Regions from separate parts of the Homo sapiens genome. Here region 1 is linked to region 2. The links come from fine-mapping of genetic effects on plasma protein levels. Region 2 holds a variant in brackets. A gene starts in the other region. All regions are shown on their reverse strands.

Region 1 (5,324 bases), not on the chromosome of region 2:
GGAAGAGAGAGATAATAAACAAAGGAGTAAAACACTCTTGAACGACTGAGCAACCAGATACAACAAGAGAGAATGCTGATGTGGCTGGGAGGGAAGTGTCTATCTTAGAAGGTGTGGTCAGGGAAGGCTTCAATGAGGTGGTGACATTTGAGTGAGACCTGACAGCTAAGAAGGAGTTGCCCTGTGAAAAGCAGGGAAAGGAACACTGTGGGCAGAGAGCCTGGCCAGAAGAGAGGACCTGTGGGGCCCAAGCTTGCTAAGTTTGCAGAACCATGAGAAGAAATCTGGCTAGAACCTAGGGAATGAAGGGCAGAGGTAAGGGACCAGATGGTGCAAAGCTTTGTGAGTCATGGGAGGGAATGTGAATTTTTGTTTTACTGTCATGGCAAGCTATTGAAAGGTTTTATTTAAGGGAGTGATTTCTATTTTAAAAAGATTGCTACATATATACAATGGAGTACTATTCAGCCATAAAAAGAATGAGATCCTGTCATTTGCAACAACATGGATGGAACTGGATATCATTATGTCAAGTGAAATAAGCCAGGTATGGAAAGACGAATGTCACATGTTCTTATTTATTTGTGGGATCTAAAAATCAAAATAATTGAACTTATGGACATAGAGAGTAGAAGGATGGTTACCAGAGGCCAGGAAGGGTAGTGGAGGGTTGCAGGGAGGGTGGGGATGGTTAATGGGTCCAAAAAAAACAGAAAGAATGAATAAGACATAGTATTTGATAGCACAACAGGGTGACTATAGTCAATAAGTTAATTGTACATTTAAAAATAACTAAAAGAATGTAATTGGATGGTTTGTAACACAAAGGATAAACACTTGAGGGGATGGATATCCAATTCTACGTGATGTGATCATTATGCATTGCATGCCTGTATCAAACATCTCATGTACCCCCTAAATACAAACACCCACTATGTACCCACAAAAATTTTAAAAAGAGAAGGCTCTCTTAAAAAAAGATTGCTCTCACCTGAGTGGATAATGGGTTGCAAGGGAAAGGAAAGAAGGAAACCAGCCAAGAAGCACCGTCGTTCTTCACGTGAGAAGTGATGGTCTTGTGGACTCAGGAGTATCTGTGGAAGTGGGGTGAAGTGGGTGGCTCCAGGGGGTGTTCGAAAGTGGGATGGACCCCCTTTGCTGATGGATGGGAGGTGAGGGGCGAGGAGATGGATGAACTGGAGATGACTTGTGGGGTTCTGACTTAAGCAGCCATGTGGATGCGGATACATTCACTCTAACAGGGATGAAAGGAGAACACAGAGGCATGGAGGACATCCAGACTTCTGTTTTGGCCTGGTCACAGATCTGACGTGCCCGTGGGGCATTGAGGAGATGTAAAGTATGAAGCTGGAGGTACAGTCAGAAGTCATTGGAATTTCTGGGCTGGAAATGTACCTGGAGGATCTCAGCATAGGACTGGACTTGGGCACCTGGGGAAAGGGTTTTGGGGGAGAGAAGAGGGATAGGTCTGAGCCCTAAGAAGCACTGGAATGTCAGCAGGAATGATGGGGGGAGCAGGAAAGCCAGGAGGGTTGGAGCCACGGGAGCCAAAAGAAACTGCTCAGAGGCCACACTGGGGAGGATCGAGGGTACCCACTGGATCTGGTGACTTGGAGGAGGCTGCTGATGGTGACAAGTCATTTCAGTTAGTGAGGATGAAAGGCAGATTGGAGTGGGTTGAAGAATGAGTTGGAGGTGAGGAGGCAAAAGTGACATTTAGGGACAACTCCTTGGAGAGATCTTGCTGTCACACTGGGCAGATAAATGGGGAAGTGCTGCTTACTTGGGTTTCTATGAACATAAGAAACAGTCTCTTCATCATTTCTAAACCTCTCTCCCACTCTGATGCACCCACCCACAGCATTCCATGATAAAATAAACCGTGGATGATGTGCAGTCCCCAACATAGTAGCTGTGACTCCATTCCTTTTTCTCCCTTTTGAGAAAGTTTCTAGGAATGCAAATCAGGCAGAGTAATGTTGGGAAAACCACAGATCTGCTGACTTCCACACATTCAACTATTATATGTAACCAAATTATTTGTAGCGCAACTTATTATTGATCACACCATACATTATTGTTGGCATGCTGGCTGAGATGTGTTGTTGTTCCAGACATGGTTGGGTGGCATTCATTCATTAAATCATTCATTCATTTATCAAATTTTTTTGAGCACTAACAATGTGTCAACTCTGGGCACTGGGAGAAGTGGTGAACAAGACAAAGATAGCCTCTGCCCTCAGGAGCTCTAGCCAGGTGGGGAGGCAGACATAGAGTAAGTGATATCAGTTGAGCTTACAGCCAGAGAAGCACTGTGTTCTCAAAGACAGCATCACTGCAGGTGCTGGCCTGGTCCACAGGTGTAGCAAGAGTCTCTGAAGAAGTGAGGATGAATAAGCAGAGAGCAGAATTAATGAGACTTGTGCTGGGACTGGGTATGGACAGCAGCCCAGGCAGAAGTGAATACCCAGGAGTGGAGGGAGCCCATTTCCACTGGGGTCAGGGCCAGCCCGTCCAGAAGGTCAGAGGAGGAGAGAGTGGGGTGAGAGGCGGGGTCCAGATGTGCGGGGCCTGGGGGCTCCAGCCAGGAGATTGGTCTTTATCAGGAAAGCATTGTGAAGAATTTTGTGTTGAGGGGAGAGGGGTGATGGGATGGTCAGACTTGTTCTGAAAGAGCGCTCAGGTGTCTGGGGAATGGGGTGTAGTTGTACAGAGAAAGGTGACAGGCCAGTATCACTTGTATACAGGCAGGGGAAGACATTAAGTCCCTTCCAGCCCTATTTCACCAAACATTGCTGGTATTTGGAAACGGGGTGGGGGATGGGGCAGGACCAGACTTCTGCTTCTCAGTGTTCTGTCCCTGTAGCCTGATCTGTTTTTCCTCTCTCCCCTCCCTCCCATCTAGGGGAACTCAACAGGTTAGTGCTGGGGCCGGTTCTCAAGGGGCAGGACAGTGGTAAGCATGGCATAGGGCATGGGAGTGCAGAGATGCAGGTGGGTGCATGACTTGGGATGGGCAGTGCAGATATTCACTTATCCAGGGAATGGCAGGACGGTGGTTATCAAACTTTGCCATGCATAAAAAACGCCTCGGGAGCTCATTAAAAGTGCAGACTTGGAAGCTTTCCTAAGGAATGCTGACTCAGCAAGTGGGGCGGTGGGGCAGGAATCATTTTTAGGAAGTTCGCTTCTCTCTCCACCCAGGTGATTTTGATCTAGATAACCCGACGGCCTTCCTTTTGAGAATGCCTCCATGCTGGCCTGCGTCTTGGCCTCATATCCTCAGTCCCCTCTTCTGTCTCGCACCAGCCTGGGCCTGAAAGCTGATTTTAGCCCTGCATTAAGATGTGAATGACCCAGGACATAGGCGTGGGCAAGGACTTCATGTCCAAAACACCAAAAGCAATGGCAACAAAAGCCAAAATTGACAAATGGGATCTAATTAAACTAAAGAGCTTCTGCACAGCAAAAGAAACTACCATCAGAGTGAACAGGCAACCTACAACATGGGAGAAAATTTTCGCAACCTACTCATCTGACAAAGGGCTAATATCCAGAATCTACAATGAACTCAAACAAATTTACAAGAAAAAAACAAACAACCCCATCAAAAAGTGGGCGAAGGACATGAACAGACACTTCTCAAAAGAAGACATTTATGCAGCCAAAAAATACATGAAAAAATGCTCATCATCACTGGCCATCAGAGCAATGCAAATCAAAACCACTATGAGATATCATCTCACACCAGTTAGAATGGCAATCATTAAAAAGTCAGGAAACAACAGGTGCTGGAGAGGATGTGGAGAAATAGGAACACTTTTACACTGTTGGTGGGACTGTAAACTAGTTCAACCATTGTGGAAGTCAGTGTGGCGATTCCTCAGGGATCTAGAACTAGAAATACCATTTGACCCAGCCATCCCATTACTGGGTATATACCCAAAGGACTATAAATCATGCTGCTATAAAGCCACATGCACACGTATGTGTATTGCGGCATTATTCACAATAGCAAAGACTTGGAACCAACCCAAATGTCCATCAATGATAGACTGGATTAAGAAAATGTGGCACATATACACCATGGAATACTATGCAGCCATAAAAAAGGATGAGTTCATGTCCTTTGTAGGGACGTGGATGAAATTGGAAACCATCATTCTCAGTAAACTATCGCAAGAACAAAAAACCAAACACCGCATATTCTCACTCATAGGTGGGAATTGAACAATGAGATCACATGGACACAGGAAGGGGAATATCACACTCTGGGGACTGTGGTGGGGTGGGGGGAGTGGGGAGGGATAGCATTGGGAGATATACCTAATGCTAGATGACGAGTTAGTGGGTGCAGCGCACCAGCATGGCACATGTATACATATGTAACTAACCTGCACAATGTGCACATGTACCCTAAAACTTAAAGTATAATTAAAAAAAAAAATAGAAGTAAATTAAAAAAAAAAAAAAAAAAAAAAAAGATGTGAATGACCACGTTCCGGGCTGGGGCGGCCGGGCTGTCGGGCAGGCAGCGCGCGGCCACCAGGGGGCGCCAGAGCCTTGGCTCGCGCGCTCGGCCTCCTCCGCCCGCGGACGCCGCGCCCGAGCCAGCGAGCGAGCAGAGCACATCGCTGCGGGCTCACAAAGCGGCCAGACGCTCGGCGGCGGCGTGTGGCAGGAGCGCAGGGGCGCGAGCCGGCGATCAGCCTTCCCGGCGACCGTGCCGCGGGAGCTCGAGCAACTCGGACTAGGGGACCCGGGCCGGCCCCCAAGGTACGTGCCCAGAGGAACCCCGCGCCCCAACTTGGAGTAGTTGGGACCTCCCCGCGGCCGCCTAGGGGGCTGGCAGGGTCAGGGCCTGGGGTTACCTCCGCGCGCCTTTCTTACCCCCGAGACCTCAGGGCGCTCAAGGGAGACCTTTCCCTTAGCTGTCGCCGGGGACCCCCAGCTGCTGGCAGCCCCCACCCCGCTTGCCGGAGCTCGGGTGCTGCTGGAGCCCTGTTCTCCCCTCTCCTGCCCCAAAGCCGTGTGCACCGCACCGTCTGTGGGAGTGCGGCGTGCGGACCCGGGCTCCCCGCTTCTGGGGAGGGGTACCAAGCCCCTGATAGGAGGGCGGCATCTGTGGGGCACTCGGAGAATAGACGAGACGGGTCCCCTGTAGTTGGACGGCAGCCTCGGATTCGTGACGCAGCCTCCTCGTTCGTAGATGAGTCCCCCATTCGTGAGAGGGGTCCCTGGGTCTAGAGGCGCGACAGGCGCCCCAGGTGCGCGAGCGCTGCCCGTGCCCGCCGCGGGGTCCC
Region 2 (5,379 bases):
GGGAGTATTTTCAGCCTCTTTAACTCTTGTGGCAGACTGCTGGTTATCATAATTCAAGAAGAGATTCTTTGCCCTCATAAGCCCAAGTACTGGAGTGGGCTGCAATTTGGGGACTTCTTCAGAGCATTACACTGGGCTACCAGCTCATGCTGGGATCCTTCCTTTTCCCCCTGGACCTGGGCTGTAGTAGCGGGCACAATACTGGGTGTGCACTCATTGTGGGACTTCGCTTTGCTCGGAGACCTTCAAACCTTGTCTCTTCACATCACCATATCCTTTGCAACCATTCCCCAGCACAGCCTGGACTGTGACAGCCCCACAGGGTGGCTGGACCCAGAGGAGCAGTGGGCTTCACAGTAAGTAGTCTGGCTCTCAGGAATTGCCACACTTAGGGTAAGGGGGAGTGTGACATGCCAAGAGAGCACCGCATGGAACAAAGGGAACCAGAGTGCAAGCTTTTTTATGTCTCAGAAATTCCTGCTTGTGCCTTTTTCAGCAAAGGCAGTTCTGGGCTCAGTGGGGGAAGACTTGAGGTTCCTTCCCAGATGTCAAACAGCCCCAGTGCTCCAAAAAGGACTTGGGGAAGGAGACTTCTCCTTCCTCCCACCCACTGCTGCAAACATCTGGGGTTTCTCCCATGGGAGTTCCATGCAGGTACTATAGACAATCTTACTGGAGCATTTTGGGGTGACTGTGTCCCCATGGGAGGTGCACCCTCCAGGGTCAGGCTTGTGTGAGAGGTGGAGTCCCTCTGTCTCTCCACATGGAATTTCAGTGTTCCTATAGATGGACAGAGGTGACTGTCTGATCTGAATATCTGGAACACTGGGTCAGGGGCTTCGTGAGGAGATAGATAGCTTTTCTGTTGGCCTGGTAATGGAGCTGAGGTGGCTCCCTTTCTTTTCACTGTAAAAACCTCAGTGCATTTCACCAGAAGCTCCCCCGGACACCATCGACATGGATGGGACTTTTGTCCCCAATTGGGGTATTGCGTATACACACCTGCTTCAGCCACAGGTAGTTCTTATCTGTGAGTGTCTCTTATTGGCTTGAAAGCTGAACTGTTCAACCCAGTGAAAAAATTACTGGGGAAGAAAAAGTGTGCACCACTGGGGAATGAGAGAAGCTTCACCACTGGGGAATGAGATGAGCTTCATGAGACCTCTGTCATCCTGGCCCCATGTAAGACAGTGAACCTGCTCAGACACCTAGCACATTGCTACTGCAAGTGGCATCTGAGAAAGCCATCATACAAAGATTCTCTGTTACCAAGGAACTCATATAGTCTTTGCCACTGAAAGCACTCAGAGCCAAAGCTAGGTGGTCATAAACTATACATATATTATAGTCAAAACCTCAAGGGGGAAAAAAACTCAAGTCCCATCAGAAATAAATTTGAAAACAATATGAAGAAATAGTCTATTCAGATATGAAGGGACCAGAAAGATAATTCTAGCAATAGGAAAAAACAGAGTTTTACAACACCCCCAAAGTATCACACTAACTCTCCAGCAATAATCCAAACTAAAATGAAAACTTTGAAATACCAGATAAATAATTCAAAATATTGATTACAAAGCTGCTTAATGAGATCCAATAGAAAGTTGAAAACCAACATAAATAAATAAAAAAAATTAAGGACATGAATAAAAATTTTTCTAAAGAAAGTATATTCTTAAAAAGACCAGACAGAACTTCTGGAAATGAAAGACTCATTCAGATAATTATAAAATGCAGTGGAAACTTTTACCACTAAACTAGACCAAGGAGAAGAAAGAATTCTAGAGCTCCAAGAGGAGCGTTTTGAATTAACCCCCAAACCAACAAAAATTAAAAAAAAAAATAAAAGAAATGAACACAGTCTCCAAGAAATATAGGATAATATGAAACATCCAATCCTAAGAATCAAAAGTATTCCTGAAAGAGAAAAAGAAAAAAACACAAGAACTTGGAAGATATATTTGAAGGAATAATTGAGGAAAACTTCCCTGGTCTTGCCAGAGATTTAGACATCCAGATACAAAAGACTCAAAGAATTCCTGGAATAGTAATTGCAAAAAGAACATCACCAAGGCATACAGTCATTAGGCTACCTAAAGTCAATGGAAGGGTAAGAATTCTAAGAAAAGTGAGAAAAAAATCAAATAACTTATAAAGGAAAACCTGTCTGACTAACAGCAGACTTCTCGGCCAAAACTTTATAAACCAGAAGGGACTGTGGTTTTATCTTTAGTTTCCTTAAGCAGAATAACTGTCAGCCAAAAATGTTGTATCCTGAAG[G/T]CTGCATTTCTTACATGAAGGAAGAATAGTCTTTCCCAGATCACCAAACACTGGAGGAATTTGTCACCACTAGACTGGCACTAGAAAAAAATGCTAAAAGGAGTTCTAAATATTGAAATGAAAGGTTGACACTCACCAGTATGAAAACACTGAAAACTGTAAAACTCAAAGGGTTTAAAAACAGTAACACAATGGAGAATACAAAGCAACTAGGTAACAATCAACATAATGACTGGAACAGTATCTTACATATCAGTATTAACTTTGAATGTAAGTAGCCTAAATGCCTAACTGAAAAAATATAGATTGGTAGAATGGATTGAAAAACACAATCCAGGCTAGGCACTGTGGCTGCAATCCCAACAATTTGGGAAGCCGATGTGGGAGAATTGCTTGGGGCCAGGTCTTATTGCCAAGACAAACCTAGGCAACATTACAAGGCCTGTTTATACAAAAAATAAAGCAAATACTAGCTGGGCATGGTAGTGTGGGTCTGTAGTCCCAGCTACACAGGAGGCTGGAATTGGAGGATCACTGGAACCCAGGAGTTTGAGATTATAATGAGCTATGATTGTGCTACTGCACTCCAGCTTGAACAACAAAGTGAGACCTTATCTCAGAACCAAAAAAACAAAATCCACAATCCAAATATCTGCTGCCTTTAAGAGACTCACTTAACTCTTAAATATTTTTATAGACTGAAAACAAAGGGGTAGAGAAAAATATTCCACACAAATGGAAACCAAAAGCAAGCATAAGTAGCTATTCTTATATCATATAAAACAGACTTTAAATCAACAACAGTAAACAAAGATTTAAAAATTATAATGATAAATAGATGAATTAAACAAAAAGATATAACAATCCTAAATATATTTGCATCTAACACTGGAGCTCCCAGATTTATAGAACAGATAATACTAGGCCGAAAAAGAGAGGTAGACAGCAATACAGTAATAGTGTGGGACTTCAATACTCCACTGACAGCACTAGACAGATTATTGAGGAAGAAATTCTACAAAGAAGCACTGGACTTAAACTTGACTCTAGAACAAATGGCCCTAACAGACATTTACAGAAATTTCTATCCTTAAACTGCAGAATATACATTCTTATTCTTATTACATGGAACATTTTCTGAGATAGACTGTATGATAGGCCACAAAACAAGTGTAATAAATTTTTAAAAATTGAAATTATATCAAATATCTTCTCAGACCACAATGCAATAAAGCTAGAAATCAATTCTAAAAGGAACTCTCAAAACTCTACAAATACATGGAAAGTAAACAACCTGCTCCTGAACGATCTTTGGATCAATGATGAAATCAAAATGGAAACTAAAAAATTTTTCAAAATAAATAATAACCAGTGACACAAGTTATCAAAATATCTGGAACACAGCAGGAGTGCTATGTGGGGAGTTTATAGTGCTAAATGCTTACATCAAAAAGGCCAAACAATCACGAATTGACAACCCAACATCACACCTCACAGAACTAAAAATACAAGAACAAACCAAACCCAAAGCTAGCAGAAGAAAAGAAATAACAAAGCTCAGAGCAAAACTAAATGAAACTGAAACCAAAAAATCACAATACAAAGACTCAATGAAACAAAATTTGATTATTTGAAAAGATAAACAGAATTGATAGGCCAATAGCTAAATTAACCAAAAAAGAGAGAGAGGATTCAAGTAAACTCAGTCAGAAATAAAAAGAAGACATTATCACTGATAACACAAAAATACAAAAGATCATCCAAGACTACTATGAATACCTCTATGCACACAAACTAGAAAATCTTGAAGAGATGAATAAATTCCTGGAAACATACAATCCCCCAAGCTTGAATCAGGAAGAAAAGCAATCCTGGACAGACCAATGACAAGTAGTGAGATTGAATCCATAATAAAAAAATCTCCCCCTCCACACCCCCAGAAAGCTCAAGACTGGAGAGATTCACAGCTGAATTCTACTTGATGTTCAAATAACTGATACCAATCCTACTGAAAGTATTCAAAAAGATTGAGAAGGAGAGAATCCTCCCTAACTCATTCTATGAAACAAGTATCATCCTCATACCAAAGCCCAGAAAGGACATAACAATAACAAAAACTACAGATCAATATCACTAATGAACATAAATGCAAAAATCCTCAATAATTACTAGCAAACTGAATCCAATAGTACATCAAAAAGATACTTCACCACGATCAAGTGGGTTTCATCCTAGGAATTCAGGGATGGTACAACATATACAAGTCAATAAATGTGATTCACCATATAAACAGAATTAAAAACAAAAATTATTATTTCAGTAGAAGCAGAAAAAGCATTTGATAAAACCTAGCATCCCTTCATGATAAAACTTCTCAGCAAACAAGGCACAGAAGGAATATACATCAAACTAATGAAAGCCACATATGAGAAACCCACAACCAGCATCATACTAAATGGGGAAAAGTTGAAAGCATTTCTTCTCAGAACAGGAACAAAAAAAGGATGCTCATTTTCAACAATTCTATTCAACATGGCACTGAAAGTGCTAGCCAGAACAATAGGGAAAGAGGAAGAAATTAGGGGCATCTAAATTTGCAAAGAGGTAATCAAACTATCTCTGGTGATGATATAATCTGATACCTAGAAAACTCTAAACACTCCTCCAACAAAATTCCTAGATCTGGTAGATGAATTCAGTAAAGTCTCAGGTTACAAAATCAATGTATGCAAATCAACAGCACTGCTATACACCAATAACAATCAAGCTGATAAGCAAATCAAGAACTTAATTCATTTTACAATAGCTGAAAAAAAATACCTAAGAATCTACTTAACCAAGAAGGTGAAAGATCTCTACAAGAAAAAGTTAAAAGCATGGAGAAAATAAATCATAGATGACACAAACAAATGGAAAAACATTTCACACTCATGAAATGGAAGAATCAATAGTGTAGAAATGATCAGACTGCCCAAAGCAGTGTAGAGATTTAATGCAATTCTCTTCAAAATAACAATGTCTTTTTTCACAGATAAAACAATCTCTAAAGTTCATATGGAACCAAAGAAGAGCCTGAACAGCCAAAACAATCCTAAGCAA

Direction of the effects. Positions count from the first base shown, and alleles are read on the strand shown. Strength reflects both the effect of a copy and how common the allele is.
As copies of G replace T in region 2, the plasma level of the protein whose gene starts at base 4,650 in region 1 goes up (weak association).

What was found. PIP is the chance, under the fine-mapping model, that this variant and not a neighbour inherited with it causes the effect. Protein levels are from antibody-based Olink assays in UK Biobank. Linkage for the fine-mapping came from a reference panel and not from the study's own genotypes, which makes the PIPs less certain.
Region 1: it holds the start of SPOCK1, and the variant in region 2 is fine-mapped to the plasma level of the SPOCK1 protein (UK Biobank, PIP 0.98).

What each region holds. Positions count from the first base shown.
Region 1 is chr5:137,498,652-137,503,975 of GRCh38, reverse strand. SPOCK1 (SPARC (osteonectin), cwcv and kazal like domains proteoglycan 1) reads left to right here and starts at 4,650. Exons shown (of 11, transcript NM_004598.4): 1 at 4,650-4,797. RefSeq lists a silencer at 4,480-4,699.
Region 2 is chr2:67,538,110-67,543,488 of GRCh38, reverse strand. LOC124907804 (a long non-coding RNA gene) reads left to right here. Exons shown (of 2, transcript XR_007086623.1): 1 at 1-356. Among named protein-coding and RNA genes, the nearest start is that of LINC02831, 24 kb to the left of the region's middle. The variant G/T (reference allele first, on the strand shown) is at 2,281.